4 linked regions of the Homo sapiens genome follow. The protein of the gene in region 1 purifies or fractionates together with the protein of each later gene. This does not show direct contact. Each region holds a gene or a part of one and is shown on either strand. Other genes may lie near its edges.

What was found. The genes of interacting proteins can lie anywhere in the genome.
Region 2: the proteins of C1QTNF8 (region 1) and SATB2 purify together in Homo sapiens (affinity purification with mass spectrometry; one large-scale study listed by BioGRID and IntAct). This does not show direct contact.
Region 3: the proteins of C1QTNF8 (region 1) and OTUD4 purify together in Homo sapiens (affinity purification with mass spectrometry; one large-scale study listed by BioGRID and IntAct). This does not show direct contact.
Region 4: the proteins of C1QTNF8 (region 1) and TWNK purify together in Homo sapiens (affinity purification with mass spectrometry; one large-scale study listed by BioGRID and IntAct). This does not show direct contact.

What each region holds. Positions count from the first base shown.
Region 1 is NC_000016.10:1,092,348-1,098,291, reverse strand, and holds the start of C1QTNF8 (complement C1q tumor necrosis factor-related protein 8 precursor), read left to right. Parts: upstream 1-2,047; 5' UTR 2,048-2,136; exon of another isoform or gene 2,137-2,503; 5' UTR 2,504-2,677; intron 2,678-3,358; 5' UTR 3,359-3,369; coding exon 3,370-3,577; intron 3,578-4,240; coding exon 4,241-4,791; 3' UTR 4,792-4,795; exon of another isoform or gene 4,796-5,169; intron 5,170-5,944.
Region 2 is NC_000002.12:199,321,034-199,325,471, reverse strand, and holds part of SATB2 (DNA-binding protein SATB2), read left to right. Parts: intron 1-1,513; coding exon 1,514-1,669; intron 1,670-4,438. UniProt on the Homo sapiens protein: Binds to DNA, at nuclear matrix- or scaffold-associated regions. Thought to recognize the sugar-phosphate structure of double-stranded DNA.
Region 3 is NC_000004.12:145,138,184-145,142,621, reverse strand, and holds part of OTUD4 (OTU domain-containing protein 4), read left to right. Parts: intron 1-287; coding exon 288-426; intron 427-982; coding exon 983-1,243; intron 1,244-2,630; coding exon 2,631-2,671; intron 2,672-3,971; coding exon 3,972-4,438.
Region 4 is NC_000010.11:100,992,691-100,995,809, reverse strand, and holds the end of TWNK (twinkle mtDNA helicase), read right to left. Parts: intron 2,621-3,119; coding exon 2,300-2,620; 3' UTR 1,407-2,299; downstream 1-1,406.

The DNA.
Region 1 (5,944 bases):
CGGGGGCTGAGTGAGCCCAGGCGTCCAGGAGCCCCCAGTCTGTACAGCAGGGAGCTGAAGGCTGGGAGAGAGGGGTGGAGTCGGGGGTCTTGCTGAGGCCCCCTCCCCCAGTGCCTGGCACCTCCACCCGCACCTCACTGGCACAAGCGCCCCGCAGCACGGAGAGGGGGCGGCCCTCCCGGGGCCCGCCTGGGACGCTGCTGGGTGTCTGTGGGGGGTGGGCCCCAGGGCACCCGGCAGCAGCCGCTCCCCCGTCGCCACGGCAATGCCGCGGTCATGCCTGGCCAGGGCTATTTCTGTCCAGGAGACATGCTGTCCTGCCCCACTGAGTCACCCCCCGCGCTCCCTGCCCACCCCACTCAGGCCTGGCCTGCAGCTTCTGTGCCACATAGTTCAGGCATCGGCCCTGCCAGCCGCCTGCCCAGACGGACTCTCCCCAGGACGGGTCATCCCGGGCCACCCGAACCCAAGGGACCCAAAGGCACCCTTCCCGGGCCGTTCACCCACCCCTCAGCCTCCCTCCACCCTGCTCTGTGCGTGGGGAGGCTCTGGGACCTGCCCTCAAGGGGGACTGTCAGGAACATGCCTCTCTTTTTAGGGGGCAGTTCTGCTGGCGTCGGGGGGCACTGAGGGGCACAGGGTTCCCTGTGTCTAGGCCTCAGGGACGCTCTGGATACTTCTGAGCTCCATGGGTGCCCATTTCACGGGCATGGGAGGCTGAGGCTCAGACCCAGGGCACAGCAGAGTGTGGGCGTCCGCCCGTCTTTCTCTGCAAGCCCCAGGAGCACACTGTCCCACTGGGACACATCTGCAGAGCTGTGTTCTCGCCGCCCAGGGCACAGCCACGCTGAGCCGGCTCGGTCGGATGCAGGTGCCATAGTCACAGGCGCTCAGGTCTTCACACCCCATCTGTGTCACCACAGCCAACAGGGTGAAGATGGCTGTCCCCAGAGGGGGCCGCTGGGCCTAGTGGGTGCCGCTGCCAAGGGTGAGCTGTCACCGCCCAGGGCCACCTGGAGGGGGGAGCCTGGAACCGGCTACAGCTGGTGCGGTCCCCACCACAGCCCTCCCCAGCCCGTTGCCCGCAGCCTGGCACACGAAGCTCCCACAGGGGGGACCCCTTGGTCTCCCCTCACCTCCTGTCCTCCTTTCCTCCTCGGTCTTTAGCATGGGGGTGCTGAGGGCCAGGCCAAGCTGAGGGGCTGCGGGGAGAGCGGGACCCCAGGTCGCACACAAATCTGCCGAGGGGACTGAGCCAGCTCGGGGCCCCTCCCCGCCCACAGCCTGCTTTCAGGCAAGGCCGCCACAATTCTCCTGCCACGTCCAGCACCTCCCACAACAGGGGCCGGCTTGTGGAGGAAGGACCTGTGGGGAATGGCCGCGTGTCCGTGTCCAGAGGCCCAGGGTCGGAGCGGGACAAGGCCAAGGTGCTGTGTGGGCTTGGCCTGGGGCCCACAGAGAATGGAGCCCCCGCCCGCTGAGGCCTGGGAGGCCTAGAAGTCATTCCCGCGAGTCGTCCGGCCCAGTCCTTATCCGCTGAGAGGCGGGGCTGGTGCGGGGCCTCCCCAGGGGTGTCATGAGGGAATGAAGAGACCCCACGGAGCCTGGGGAGGCTGCGCTCCTGGGCTCCATCCAGCCTGGCTTCCCCGCCAGCAGCATGAGGGCTGTGCGTCACCCGGTGGCTTGGTGGCCATGGGGGCCCCGTGCAGCATGGAGGCCCTGGTCTGGGCCCCGAACACGGGCCTCGGCCTACAGCCCCCCCGCCGGGCCCGCCCAGCCACAGCTTCCATCTGCCTGCTTCTCCTCAGGGCGCCGCACCCCAGGCGGGCAGCAGGCTTGGTTTCCCGATGGAGGAGAGCTGCGTGCCCACGGCACCATCCCCCAACCCAGCCGGCCAAGACGCCGGGCCCCAGCCCCGCTCATGGGCACGGGGCTGGCAGGAGGACCCTGGGGCCGCGAGGCAGGCTTCGCAGTGGACACAGGGGCCCTGCCAGGATCCTGTCCAGGGCTCGGCGGAGCTGGCCTCTCGGCCTGTTGCTCTTGGACAGCCCAGAGGAAGCCACGGGCGCCCAGGCGGGCATGAAAGGGCTCTTTGACGGCTGGGTTGCTGGGACAGTAACACAGACGGCCGGCCAGGCAGGGAGCATCCCTGAGACGGTAACAGGAAGCACAGGGCCTGGGGCTGGTTGTGGGAGTCTTCACAGCCGCCCTGGGCAGGTCGGGCTCCCCCTGAACCCCAGCGGAGCATGATCCAGCCCTGATTGTCTGCCAGGCAGGGCCAGGGGCTGGGACGGCCGGGAACTCCGTGGGGGCTCCTGCAGGCCTCCGTGCATGCACACACCCACTCCTGCCAGGCTCCCTCTGCCGGAGGAGTCCAGGGGGGCTCTTGTGGTGTCCAGTGGGGCCAGGGGGTGAGTCAGGGTCTGCTGAGCTCATGGGGAGGCAGGCAGAGGGTGTCTCAACTGCCAGAGACATTCCACCCACCTGGAATGACCCACTGCAGGAGGAAGGACCTTGCCCTGTGCTACAATCCCAGAGGGCTTCCTGAAGGAGGCAGCCTAGATCTTTGTCCAGCAGAGCCCATCTTCAGGGAATATTGAGGATCCCGACCCGTGCACCTGCCCTAGCGGAAGACACTCCTGGCCAAGCCTCCAGATGTGGCTGTGAGGGGAGTGGGGTAGGCAAGGCCCACCTGGCAGGGGGGCCAGGCTTGTTGGGGCAGCTGCTGTTGGGAGGGGGCCTACCTTGCTCAGGGGGACCCAGGTTGGCTCTGGCTTCCCCTCGGCACCAAGGTGGGACCATCCTTCCCTAGTCTGGGGGAGGCAGAGGAGTGGCCTCCCGAGGCCCCTGCAGGCCCTGCCCTGGGGGCTCCGGACGAGAGGCTCTCTGGGCCTGGCTGAGACGGTGCCTCTGTGCACTGTGCAGGGCCCCCCACCCCAGGCCAGCCTTGGGGGGCCTTTCCCTGGAGCAGACCAGCCACCACGCCCCAGGGCTCTGCCCAGCCACAGTGGGTGGGGCCTTGGGCGGCTACCCGCTCCTGAGTTTAGAGGGCTGTCTCAGAGACCTCTGTGTCCCACAACGGCTTCCCCACCATCTGCCGGGTGTGGGGGCCCCAGCTTTGGGGACCAGGACTCCCCGACTCCAGGTGTGCAGGGTGCCTGGTGCGGCCCAGAGTGTAGCAGCCCCTGAGCCTCGGCCTTGGCCTCACCCACTGGGCCAGGACCGTCCGTGCCCAGGCAGAAGCTCCCGCCTCCACTGGCTGTATTCCCAACGGGGGCAGGGCCGGGCTGCCGTAGGGTCTGGGGGCTCCAGCTGGGGCACCTCCTTCTCAGTCCCTCCCCTCTTTCCTCTCCCCCAGCCCTGGCCAAGATGGCAGCCCCCGCCCTGCTGCTCCTAGCACTGCTGCTGCCCGTGGGGGCCTGGCCCGGGCTGCCCAGGAGGCCCTGTGTGCACTGCTGCCGCCCGGCCTGGCCCCCTGGACCCTATGCCCGGGTGAGTGACAGGGACCTGTGGAGGGGGGACCTGTGGAGGGGGCTGCCTCGAGTACGGCCCACTATAGACATCGAAATCCTCAAAGGTGAGGCCCGTGGGTGCTGCCTGCATGCTCCCCCACCAGGACCCAACAGCCCACAGGGAGTGGGGAGCACCTGGGGCTTGGGAGGAGGGGCGGGAGGGGCACGCTGAGCACCAGTGTCTGCCCTGGCAGCGCTCCCTGCACAGGGACCCCTGGGCTCCCCCCGCAAGCAGGAAGAAGCCTGGCTTGGGGAGGGACCCATGAACCAAAGTGGGGTGCTGAGGATCCTGGGGAAGGGGGCCAGGGTTCCTGAGATCCCCAAAGTAGCAGCCCCTTGGGAAGGGAGCCTGGGCAGCCCGCTTGCTCTGAGACCCCTTGACACGGCTGCGCTGTCCCGAAGGCTGTACTAAGGTTAGGCTTGGGTAGGACCTTCCCAGCCTTCTCATTCTTTAACACCCAACGCAGACCGTAGCTGGCCCTGACCACCCATGTCCCCACCCTCTCGGTGGGGACGGCCTTGCCACAGGCCTTGGTCTAGCCACACCTTTGGAGAACGGCTTCTCCCCATCTTACAGACGTGGACGCGGAGACTGGGAGAGGGGCCGTCACTTGCAAAGAGTGTGTCCTTACAGTGACCCTTGAGCCCCAGCCCCTGGCCTGGGTGCTGGAATGGGGGAGGCCTGCCCAGCCCGGCCCCGACCCGTGGCTTTCGTTTGTCCCCTGCAGGTGAGAAGGGTGAGGCCGGCGTCCGAGGTCGGGCCGGCAGGAGCGGGAAAGAGGGGCCGCCAGGCGCCCGGGGCCTGCAGGGCCGCAGAGGCCAGAAGGGGCAGGTGGGGCCGCCGGGCGCCGCGTGCCGACGTGCCTACGCCGCCTTCTCCGTGGGCCGGCGCGAGGGCCTGCACAGCTCCGACCACTTCCAGGCGGTGCCCTTCGACACGGAGCTGGTGAACCTGGACGGCGCCTTCGACCTGGCCGCGGGCCGCTTCCTCTGCACGGTGCCCGGCGTCTACTTCCTCAGCCTCAACGTGCACACCTGGAACTACAAGGAGACCTACCTGCACATCATGCTGAACCGGCGGCCCGCGGCCGTGCTCTACGCGCAGCCCAGCGAGCGCAGCGTCATGCAGGCCCAGAGCCTGATGCTGCTGCTGGCGGCGGGCGACGCCGTCTGGGTGCGCATGTTCCAGCGCGACCGGGACAACGCCATCTACGGCGAGCACGGAGACCTCTACATCACCTTCAGCGGCCACCTGGTCAAGCCGGCCGCCGAGCTGTAGCCGGGTGAGGGGCCCCGCGGCTGAGCACCGGGCGCGCGCGCGCGTGTGTGTGTGTGTCTGTGTGTGTGTGTGTGGGGGTGGGTGTGGGTGTGTGTGTGTGGGTGGGTGTGGGTGTGGTGGGGTGGGCGGGCAGCGGAGCTTCAGCGCCGACTGTGTGCAGTGATTTGTTGAGCGCTGACTGTGTGCAGGGATTGGTTGAGCGCCGACTGTGTGCAGTGATTTGTTGAGCGCCGACTGTGTGCAGGGATTGGTTGAGCGCCGACTGTGTGCTGTGATTGGTTGAGCGCCGACTGTGTGCTGTGATTGGTTGAGCGCCGACTGTGTGCAGGGATTGATTGAGCGCCGACTGTGTGCTGTGATTTGTTGAGCACCGACTGTGTGCAGGGATTGGTTGAGCGCCGACTGTGTGCTGTGATTGGTTGAGCGCCGACTGTGTGCAGTGATTGGTTGAGCGCCGACTGTGTGCAGGGATTGGTTGAGCGCCGACTGTGTGCAGGGATTGATTGAGCGCCGACTGTGTGCAGGGATTGGTTGAGCGCCGACTGTGTGCTGTGATTGGTTGAGCGCCGACTGTGTGCAGTGATTTGTTGAGCGCCGACTGTGTGCAGGGATTGGTTGAGCGCCGACTGTGTGCAGGGATTGATTGAGCGCCGACTGTGTGCTGTGATTGGTTGAGCGCCGACTGTGTGCAGGGATTGGTTGAGTGCCGACTGTGTGCTGTGATTGGTTGAGCGCCGACTGTGTGCTGTGATTGGTTGAGCGCCGACTGTGTGCTGTGATTGGTTGAGCGCCGACTGTGTGCAGGGATTGGTTGAGCGCCGACTGTGTGCTGTGATTGGTTGAGCGCCGACTGTGTGCTGTGATTGGTTGAGCGCCGACTGTGTGCAGTGATTTGTTGAGCGCCGACTGTGTGCAGGGATTGGTTGAGCGCCGACTGTGTGCAGGGATTGATTGAGCGCCGACTGTGTGCTGTGATTGGTTGAGCGCCGACTGTGTGCAGGGATTGGTTGAGTGCCGACTGTGTGCTGTGATTGGTTGAGCGACGACTGTGTGCTGTGATTGGTTGAGTGCCGACTGTGTGCAGTGATTGATTGAGCGCCGACTGTGTGCAGGGATTGGTTGTGCCCCGACTGTGTGCAGGGATTGATTGAGC
Region 2 (4,438 bases), on another chromosome or scaffold:
AACAGCACCTGGCATAAATTGGAGATTTTGGAGGCAGTGTGTAGTGCAGTGTCCTGAGCCCATGTTTTTGAGCCTGAAAGACTTGCGTTCAGATCATGGTTCCTTCACTGGCTGCTGGGTGTCCTAGGTTAAGATCCTCTTTTATTTCAGTTTCTTCATCTGTAAGATGAAAATAATAATATCTAACTCATTGGAATCTTAAAAGAATTAAATGTGAAAACAAATGTTAAAATGCTTTCTGGAGTACCTGGCCCATAAAAAGCACGCCATAAATTATAGTAATTATTGCTTTGCGGTAATTAGAAAATAGTATGAGAGAAGGAGGTAGAAGAAAAATGGCAGAAGTTACTGAGCACTGTTAGGAAGCAAAGCCTTTATGGAAACGTAGGGCCTTAAGTTCTGCCGCTAGACACCATTTGTCACAGAGTCCACACTGCCTGTTACATCTTTCTCTGGACCTGCATACTGCTGGATCCAGTAGAGAACAGCTCAGGGCATCCGCACAGGGAAACTTGTGATTTGGAGATAACTCTGTTGGTTTGAGATTCTAGGGTGAATGGGGACAAAGAGAAAAAACCCAGGTTAGGCCAATTCGGCTGGTAGTGCACAAGGATCAAGGATGTCTTTTCCTGAAATCTTGCTGCCAGAGGTTCTAAGAAAATGTCTCAGCCCTCTCTTATTAGACACCAGCAATGCATTCTAGGGCTCACACCAAGTAAATGTTATGACCGTCTTTTGGATTAAGTAGATTCAGACATTTTAGGGTTATCCTAACCCCAAGAAGTACAGACTTCTATATTGTCCTTCATTTGTCTCTGAAGCTGATGGGAAATCATTCAATTAAAACGAGCACTGCAGAATACATAAAACCGCAATATGAGTTTAAGAAAATGAAAACGGCACATCAAAGGCATTGTGAAGCCTAGTTTTATGAAATGAAATTTTGTTTCATTTCCACTGATTTCCTAGGTGAAATTAGGTGACTGTCTGGGTAGCATAATGATGATAATGATGGGAAACCATACATACTCGAATGACATATGTAAAGCTTTAATAAAGAATAAGAGAGACTTGGGAGTGCATTAAATTGAGTAATAATTTATTATTTAGAGACCTCTACCCATTTACTTATTTTTTTTCTGGAAGAATTGGCTCTTATTCCAAGGTGTGCCATTTTTAGAAAGAAAAGGTTAACTGTGTGTGTGTTCTGCATGTTTGTTTTGTAGTTAGATGGTTGCTTATAGTTTGGTGTCTAGGAGAGCCATCCTACCTGTGAACCTTCGTCTGGGATGCTGTGAGAGAACAGGGTTGACAGGATTCTGCATGTCCTATAGGAATGCACTGCAATTATTTCCAATCACAATTAACCTGATTAGAATAATGGACAGGAAGTGTCCCTCTGTAGCTAATGCAGTTTGGCATCAGCTGACTGAAATCCTTTGATAATTTCTGCACAGATGGCTGGGCTGAATGCAGCACTTTTTAAATTATTATTTTCATGGTCTCTTGGTAGGCCAAAACCTCGACACCGACAACAGACCTCCCTATTAAGGTGGACGGCGCCAACATCAACATCACAGCTGCCATTTATGACGAGATCCAACAGGAGATGAAAAGGGCCAAGGTGTCTCAAGCCCTGTTTGCCAAAGTGGCTGCAAATAAAAGTCAGGTGAGTGGTTTTTAAAAAAGCAAAATCGAGGGCTGGAATTAGATCCTTCTCCTTCCTCCACCAATAAAAATACATCTGTTCCTATAATAATAATAACAGTAATAACCCCCAAGAAACCTGTCATGTTCTGCCTTTTACTCTAGTTTGCTTTTATTCCCATTGGAGTTCAAAATAGAGATGAAGCCAAAACTTGACCTTTTTTCTTTTAAAGATTAAAAAAAATTAGCCTCGAATGATTTCTCTCCTTATTCTAAACACTGCAATGTACCCTTTTGTTTCTCTCCCTTTATATATGTGTGTGTGTGTGTGTGTGTGTGTGTGTGTGTATGAACAAAACTTAGAATGTATATAACAGCACCTTTCTGAGACCAAGTTTTAGCCAAGTCTCATCACCTTTCCTGTTCCCACAAGGGGAATGTCCAACTCTGTTATAATAACCACTTTTCCCCAGCCCCAGAGACACCTTTTGATGTCAGGTGTTTCTTTTATGTACAGAATACAGTTGATTTTTTCAGGAGAAAACACACGTGGGGGGAGTGCAGAGTAAGTGCTAAAATCTTTTAACAGAAAAACACAGAAGCTTATCCAGTAAAATTTTTCAGAGTTCTGGGATTGTGGAGAATGTAATGCTCTGGGGAAAAGAGCAGACAGATGCTTAGGTTTTTTATTTCTGAAAGCAGCAACAGTTGATGGGATCTACTATCTGCTTCAATTCTTCATTTAAAGGGACAACTTCTGCCCAAACCTAGAATCCTAGGTTTGAGGTGCATGCTCACTTATGTATACCTAGGGCGAACACCTAATGCAGAGTGGAGGAAATAAAAGTTAGTTAAAGCATAATTTTGAGAGTCCTTTGATTCTGAGCTTGATTTCCTCTGTGTCCTTATATGACAAATGTTTTCATCCCTACATATGTAAATAATCAAATGGTTGATCATCTCCCTAACAAATCTTCTGTTGTGTGCTATAAAGAAAGGAAGTGACTGAGTATTGTATTTCTATTAAGCAAGAAGGTTTTCAATAAAAATTAAATTTTTAAAACTGAAAAACTTCAAACTGTAGTTAAATGTTATATTTAGATTAATTATAGAGTACAGGGTTAGCCTTCTTTACCTGCAGTTTTAACCTGATATAGGTTATTTTTAGATGTTGATAAAAGGAGGGGAGTAGAATATCAAGGAACTTGGAAAGGGATTGAAATGTTTGTTTCCCTTTTCAATTTCAGTGTAGTAAGTTTTCCAGATTACTCTGACTTTCTCTCTTCAATGAAATCAGTGAAATACAGTTTGCTAAGACATAATGTCCAACCATAGTATGAAATACATGAAAAGAAAATACCATAGAGCCTTCTTAAACTGTTAAATGCATAAAATCCCATGTACCACATGGCAAAATATAATGAGAGTTGGAGCTGTTAAACGAATAAAGCTGTTAAATGCATAATGCCACTTGGCAAAACTACTGTGCATTTAATGGTTTTCCACTGTGTAATAAAGGACATATGTGGTAAATGTGCAGTGAGTATAAAAGCTGCACAATTGATTTTGCAAACCTGCCCCTTAGTTGTGACTTGATGTAAATATCAAAGTTTCACACAGTCCTTCTTTTATAAGCAGCTTTCAAGAAAAACTGAAGACCACAGTCTGAGAACTTGATTCCAAAAGCCTGTAATCTTCCTGTTGATTTAGCAGTATGGCTTTTGGAAATAGTGATGCCTCCAGCCTCCTAAAATAATTCAGGTAGCTGATTGAAAGCTGCTTTTGCCAACTGGCAGAAGCTTAGCTCTCCAAATTTTTGATGTCTCCTGAAGAAATCAGTAGCCCTGATTTCGTAGAATTTGGAGAAGAACATAGTTCTGGGAATTAATATGCTGAAGGTAAGATTGAGCTTAAGTGAGGATAAGATGCTTTGAGGTTGTTCCTTTTTCACTGGGACAATGATCTCATTTTCATCTATGAGTGGGGAACCTTATTGTAAATAGCTGACTAGATAGGCAATTCAGGCACTATGTTTATTATGTTTTTTTTTTAAAAATGATACTGCCAAACAAAATGAATTTAATTGGCAGTTTCAAAGGCAATTTAACAAAAGATATTCACTCCATTTTATAAGTATCAGTATTCATTTGATAAAAAGTACATTTAGTGAAATCAATTGCATGATTTGGTACATGGCATATATATTTGGTGGCTATCCATAAGGTGTATCTATGTGTGTGTACCTGTGTGTACATGTGTGTGTATGTGTGTATATATATACACATATATGTATATATGTATATGTGTGTATATACATGTATGTGTATATACACATATATACATGTATGTGTATACATATATAAATCTATAAGGTGTATATATGAGACTGAGATATATATATATCCATAAGGTGTATCTGTGTGTGTATATAGACATATATATGTCTATGTATAGACATACATATATATCTATACATAGACATATGTACATACATATATGTCTATACATAGACGTGTATATATATGTCTATACATATGCATACACATACATACACCTTATGGATATATATATCTTAGTCATATATATACACCTTATAGACTTATATATCTCTCTTAGTCATGACTAATCATAGGACTTAACCTTTTCAAGCTGCAGAGGGGAGTGGCCACACCCACTCCATTGTATTGTGAGGACGGAGAGGAACAAAGATTTTTCTCTTCCCTTGCATTTTCTTCCCTCCTTTTATTTTTCTTTGGAGGGATCTTAAGTTCTTGCAGTGACTGAAGAGCCA
Region 3 (4,438 bases), on another chromosome or scaffold:
TGAGCCCAAGAGTTTTGAGACTAGCCTGGGCAACAGGGTGAAACCCTGTCTGTATTAAAAAATACAGTCCTTGTTGGTAGGCAACCCTTGGTTAGGATCAAATTTGTTTGCATATTATCTTTAGCTACTGTGTGTTTTTCTTACATTTCTAAGACTATAAGGGCTATTTGTACTTCATTTGTATAAAAGGCAGGCAACTCAATATGTATCTGGTGGTTAGAAATAGTGTTAAAGCAAAATGACCTCTTGTCTTTTTCTGTCTTCCCCCACTCACCCCTTTCTTGAAGAAGCCAGCAGAACATGTGTCTTTGTCAAATCCAGCTCCCCTTCTAGTTTCTCCAGAGGTACATCTAACTCCTGCGGTGCCTTCTTTACCAGCCACTGTGCCAGCCTGGCCAAGTGAACCTACAACTTTTGGACCAACAGGTTAGAGAAGGGTTTAGAAAATCTAGCCAGCCAAAATACCTTTCTAGTCAGAGACTTCAAATTCTTGAGTGGAAGTTTGACCTCTGAGCAGGATTAGGTGTGTGGAGCCTCACAGAGCTTTCTGTGATACTCTGCTTTGCTCTGCTTCCAATGTGGAAAGACCATGTACATTTGGTGTTGTATTCATCTGACATATGCCCTCATAGTCTCAGGAGCATGATGTTTGAGCTGGTTGCTTTGGTTGCTCAGCACTAATTAGCACCACGGTTTGATGCTTCCTTCATGGGCCAGCTCTTTATGGCCCCGTAATGAACCCCTTGACCAGCCCCATGTCCTACACGTGCCTGCAAGAGCTACTATTAGAAGACATTGACTCAGAGCTTGTATCCTGGACGTATTTCCTTCTTGGTGTCCAGGAGGGCTCTTGGTTGATACTAAAAGGTACTACTTTAGATTGGCTTTATCAGTTATACAGCATTCTTTATAGGTTAATGTAAGCATATTTGTAGAGATTTTCATCTTTTGTCATTTTGATTCCTTTTCTTCTCTTTTGTAGGTGTCCCTGCTCCAATTCCCGTTTTGTCAGTGACACAGACTTTGACCACTGGACCTGATTCAGCTGTATCCCAAGCTCATTTAACACCCTCTCCAGTTCCTGTGTCAATACAGGCAGTTAACCAGCCCTTGATGCCTTTGCCTCAGACATTGAGCCTTTATCAAGACCCACTCTATCCTGGGTTTCCTTGTAATGAAAAGGGAGATCGAGCCATTGTACCACCTTATTCACTGTGTCAGACTGGGGAGGACCTACCTAAAGGTGAGCTCCTTCTCCAAGTTCAAATCGACTTTATCAAGTCCAAATAAGCTTAGTTAAGAAATGAAGAGATGTAAGTAGAGGTCAGAGGTCTGGTTTCTTAGTAAGCTCAAGGATGGGAAGGACAGCAAAGTTTTAGCTATTAGTCAGTCATTCTTGTTTCAGCTTGATTTATTAGAAAATGTATTATAATTTTTTTTTTTTTTTTTTTTTGAGACGGAGTCTCGCTCTGTCACCCGGGCTGGAGTGCAGTGGTGTGATCTCGGCTCACTGCAACCTCCACCTCCCAGATTCAAACAATTCTCCCACTTCAGCATCCTGAGTAGCTGGGATGACTACAGGCACATGCCACCAGGCCTGGCTAATTTTTTGTATTTTTTAGTAGAGACGGGGTTTCACCGTGTTAGCCAGGATGGTCTCGATCTCCCGACCTCGTAATCTGCGTGCCTTGGCCTCCCGAAGTGCTGGGTTTACAGGTGTGAGCCACCGCGCCTGGCCCAGAAAATTTTTTTTTGTTTCTAGCATACTTGTTAATGCTAGTATGCTTAGTAATGATACCTCCTTCTGTGTTTTTACATAAATGGACTTGAAACCATTCTGAATTACAATAATAATTTCACTAATTAGATACCTAAACACTGTGGAGCTTTATCAACACTGGTCTGCATTTCAGACATGCATCCGTGAAAAAGTTACAGAGAAAAGCAAATATAGTATGTAGTGGCTGTTAAAGTACTATATTTAGTATGTCTTATTTTTGTTTAAAAAATTCTTTCAAAGTTTGCTTTCCCTCTTTATTTTTAAGGAATTTACACCTCCCTCCTTTTTAGTTTCCAAAATTTTATATCTGTAAATTTGAGTAATGCACTGACTACTATATGCTGTTTACCTGGATTTATGTGGATGTTTTTGTTTTATTAGTTAGTAGTTTGATGTTTGTGTCTATGAGTAACTGGCTCATGGCATATGAATACTTGGAAGAATATTATCCTGCAAATGATGCTACTAATAAGTTAGGTTTTATGTTGATTTTACCATTCTTCTCAACATTTTTATTTCCTAATTTTTAAACCCCCAGAAAAGTTGAGAAAGAAAGCCACCTGAATGTCCTTTACCCAGATTCAGTTTTAATGAGATAAAAATTTCAATCTAAGCCATTTTGGGATTTATATGCTAACAGACAAAGCCTATTGAATCTGGAATTAACCTTTGGGAACAACCTGTTTTTGGGTTGTGTTATATTACAGTTTTTATCTATGTTTTGTATCACAGGCTAGAGAAGACAATTATAGTAGGTAAAATTGTCTTTAGAACTATATATTTAATGAGGATGATTTAAAAAAATCTCTGCAGATATATAATTTTAACAAGTGATTACTTTTATTTTTAGATAAGAATATTCTTCGATTCTTCTTCAATCTTGGTGTGAAGGTATTTACATTTTATCATCTTAAAAGTTATTTTATTCATTAATAGTGTTTTAAATTATTACTAGTGTTAACTCTTACCCTGTCAGTCAGTAACCTAAAGTTTACTAAATCTCATCATTTTAAAAACCAGCATTTTCAGTACTATATCGTTTGTTTTTGGTGCTAGTAGAGGCTCCAGTTTTACTTACTTTTTTGTCTTAACTGGTGATGGCTTAACCTGTGAGTATATTTAAGACATAGCTGCATCTTTGGGCAGCCTAGTGGAAATGCCCTTGCTGGGGAATAATTAGATGTAAATCTGGGCTTGAAGTTCTGCTCCATCACTCTTTAGCTGAATTTCCCTGGGCAAGCCATGTAGTGTATCTGGGCCTAGCTTTTTTCATTTATAGAATGGGGGTAATATTCTTTACTTGCCTCCATTATTGAAAAGATCAAAGGAAATAACGTGTACATCCTCCTATGTAAGATAGTGTGGTTGTTGACTAGAAGAGCAGAGGTATCCTTTGGGAAGTGGTCAACCTAGAAATAGCTTTTCTTAGGTTGGAGAACTCTGTCCTTGTTAAATGTTAGGTTTTCTCCTGACCTAGATTAGTTTTTGTGGGTTCTAGACAGTTAAACTATGAAACGAAGTGCCCTACCTTTAGCCTGCTGACCACTTTCATAAAAAGAAACTTGATTATTTTACTATCTGCTGCATTGCTTAATTTTAATGTATTTAATGTTGATTTTAATTGGTTAGCCAATTAGCTGGTTATACTTTCTTCATATTTTGGTTTTTAGCTGAACTCTTGCAGAGGAAGGATTTGGAATATTTCATTTTCAACATTATCCCTCCCTGATTAGAGGTCTAACTTAATCCTTACATTCGGAGTACTCTTGGGGGCTCCTAGAATTGCAGAGTCCTGACATTGGAGATCATCTACTCTTATACTGACATTCCCAGTAAAACAAATTCAGATGTTAACTGGCCTGCATGGGGTCACACAGTGAGTTAGTGGTAGAGCCCGAATGTGAATGCAGGTCTGGCTAAACAGTCAGTGATGGAGATACTATCTCCTATCAACCTATGAGGACTTCAGATTGGTTTTAGGACAGGAGCAAGCAATGGAGTCTTAAAGCAGTGAATTTTGTAATTCATTTTCACGTTGGTTATCACAGTGATTTAGTATTTGGACTATAGATTATATGGTCTTTGTAGGCATGAGAAACTTATTTTGACCCTAGTACTTGTAGATTGATATCCACCCAAACCTCTCTTTTTTCTCCTCTTTTGTTTATTTAACTGTTTTTTGTCTCTTCAGGCATACAGTTGTCCTATGTGGGCCCCACATTCTTACCTGTACCCTCTGCACCAGGCCTACCTGGCAGCCTGCAGGATGTACCCAAAGGTCCCTGTCCCTGTTTATCCTCATAATCCCTGGTTCCAAGAGGCTCCTGCTGCTCAGAATGAAAGTGATTGTACCTGTACTGATGCCCACTTTCCTATGCAGACTGAGGCCAGTGTTAATGGTCAAATGCCACAGCCAGAGATTGGACCGCCGACATTTTCTTCACCTCTGGTTATCCCTCCATCTCAGGTGTCTGAAAGTCATGGACAATTGTCTTACCAGGCTGATCTTGAATCTGAGACCCCTGGGCAGCTTCTGCATGCTGATTATGAAGAGTCACTAAGTGGCAAGAATATGTTCCCCCAGCCATCTTTTGGACCCAATCCATTCTTAGGCCCAGTTCCTATTGCACCTCCTTTCTTTCCTCATGTTTGGTATGG
Region 4 (3,119 bases), on another chromosome or scaffold:
CAGACTGGGTGGAATCATGATATGGGGTATTTAAGGCAGGTATGGAATAGAACGTGTTTGTGCAGCGGGTAGGGCTGGGGGGAGTATTAGCTTCCCCTCCCCCTCATCATTCTGGTTTGTGCTGTGTGGGGGTGTCTGCTAGAAGGGTGGGGCAAGACAAACAGCCAAGTCTGTATCTATCCCTCTATCCCCAGTTCACAGAGACCTCACAAAGGTCCCCTACTGGAAACCCCTAAAAGATCTCCTGAGAACCCACCAGGCATTCTAGGGAGACAGGAATGTGGAACCCACATCCTTACAGGTATGACTGATATGGTATTGTGCCTCTGGAAGGCATGGCTGCCGTTCAGCGTTACAGACTCTGGATGAGGCCTAGACCAGCCAACGGCTGGGAATGATTACTGCGGGATTAGGGAGGCCTGGCTCCAGCCAGTCTGGGAGAGACCCCCAAGAAGGGAGGCCCTGGAGGAGCTCTCCCCACCCCCCCAGGTTCTTCCTCACAGAGAGCAGCTTTCCAGCAGCCTTGCTCCGGATGTTTCAGGAGACATTTGTGACCAGAGTTCTCACACTCCAGAGACCACAGACCCCTCCATCGGCCCCAGAAGCCCCTTCATAGGTTGAAAGGAAGAGCCTGACAAGGCAGCCCTGCTTCCAAACGGAGCAGGAAACCTTCCCCCAACCCTTACAAAAGGATTCTCCCCAGCCCCCTCAGAACATATTGCATTCTCACGACTCTTTCAGGCAAATCCAAAGGGAAACTGGGACTTTGGGATATCAGAGGACGAGAGATGAGAAGGTGTCATCATTTAGGAATACTTCTGACAGTCCCTCTGGGTCACCTATTTTACAGTCTCCTCCACGGCTTGTTAAAAATGAGGATTACTGTACCCGTCCTCAAATCCAGAATGAGAAATGTACGTGGTGGAGGATGGGGGGAGAATGGGGCCTAGTTTCTGCATTTTTCACAAGTCCCCAGGAGTTCTGGCACGCATTAGCATATGAGAAACACGGAGAGGGTACAGGAGGGAGATGGATGGGGGTGGACAGAATATGTTGAGTCTAAGTCCACTTGAGAGGTGAGTGGCTCACATCACAGAGGAATGGCCAGTCAGGCAGGGCACTGGGCTCATGTGGCCCAGTGATGAGTACCTGTGCCAGGAATCACTCGAGATCCTCAGGGAAGTTAGGTATGAGGACAGATCATCTTGTCTTCCCTAGGCCAAGAAGAGATGTAAATGGAAGGTGGGGTGTGAAGGCCCTTTAATGTCCCTGCTTCCTTGGAAGCCCACCGCTCAAAGGCTGCAAGCAGTGGGAGGGGACCCGTCCATTCCCAATCCCGAAAGGGAAATTCAGCTACGGACTGGGGAGACACCTGGTGGATGAATAAGAAAAAGCACAGAAACAAAGGCAATGGAAAAATTTTTTAGTAAAACTGGAAAAGGCTCTATAAAATGTCCTGACTCCAGCAGTCTTGAGGCAGCACACAATGGCATCAGTGTCTAGGTGGCAGGCACTCCGGGCTGACAGCTTCCTTCTATGGCTCTATGACCAAGCAACCCAGCCCGAGGCAGCTCCCACCAGTGAGGCCCTGATATTGCAGGGCTAAGCACCTAGGATCCAATTCTAGTACATGCCACCTCATGCTAGGCTCTACAAAGTGGGGAGCAGAGGAGCTTGGTACCCACTGTATCACCCTTTGACTTTGAAAGCCTAGGCTGGAGTTTCGCATGAAGTCCCCGATTCCCCTCCAGGTTCATGCGGCCTGACCTCACTGCCTTGAATCTGACCTGCTCATTCCTACCTCAGGGCTTGGATTTCCTTTTCTCTCTGCCTGGGTCCCCTTCGCCGGATGTTCACGTGGCTCTCTCCTTCTAGTTGTTTAGGCCCCAGCTCACATGCCCTCGGCTCAGAGACACCTTTTCAGACCACTTATCTACACTAGCCTGCCAGCACTCTATCGCATTTCTATTTTCTTTACAGCATTTTTCACTAAAACTAGGTTTTCTGCTAATTTGTTCATTGCTTGCTTGTCTCTTCCGCCAGAATGCATGCAGGCAGGGACTTTATCTCTCTTTTCAGTGCTGTATATACAGGACCTCAAACAAAGCCTGAGCAACACAGTAGTTTCTCAGTAGTCTGCTACATTGAATTTTCTCACTATGGAAACCTGCTCTAGGTTAGGCCCCTCAGACTGAGAAGGGCACACAGCTCAGGACCACAGGATAGAGGAGCCCTTGCAGAGTTTTATGCTCCAGCCTATCCTATCAGGCTCATTTCAGTGACCAGCTCTGCACGGCCTTCACTTTGAACGCTTGGAGGTGTCTGGCTGGTCGGGAGTGGGGGCCTGGCCTGAGCAAATCTCAGAGTTCTGTGTCGTAGCCCCCTTTTTGCCAGAAGAGGGCTTTTTGGCCACTGGTCCAGTGTCATCCTTGATCTTCTTGAGCCGGGCCTTGTTCTTTGGTGGAATGGAGAAGGTGAGGGAGTTCTTGTTGAACTCAAGCGGGAAGACACCTACATCTCCATCAAAGCGGTTCTTGGACACCTGCAGATACCGTTTCCCTGGCCCGGTTACCAGCTTCCTGTCCTGCAGGATCAGAACATTGTCTGCTTCCTGGCTTGCCTGGGGAACAGGGGGCAGAAGGAGGAAAGCAGGAGTAAGAGGACATGAGCAAAGCAGAAAGGGGGGCTGACAGGGCAGGGAGGAGTGATAAGAATGGGGAGAGGGGCTGGGTACAATGGCTCACGCCTGTAATCCCAGAACTTTGGGAGGCCGAGTCGAGTGGATCACGATGTCAGGAAATCAAGACCATCCTGGCTAACACGGTGAAACCCCATCTCTACTAAAAATACAAAAAATTAGCTGGGCATGGTGGCATGCACCTATAGTCCCAGCTTCTTGGGAGGCTGAGGCAGGAGAATCGCTTGAATCCGGGAGGCGGAGGTTGCAGTGAGCCAAGATTGTGCCACTGCACTCCAGCCTGGGCAACAGAGCGAGACTCCGTCTCAAAAAAGAAAAAAAAAAAGAGAAAGAATGGGAGAGGGAAAAGTACTTCCCCCCATGACCAAAGCTCTTTGAACTACTGACCACGATGCTGGGGCCACTCAAATCTTTCAGTTCC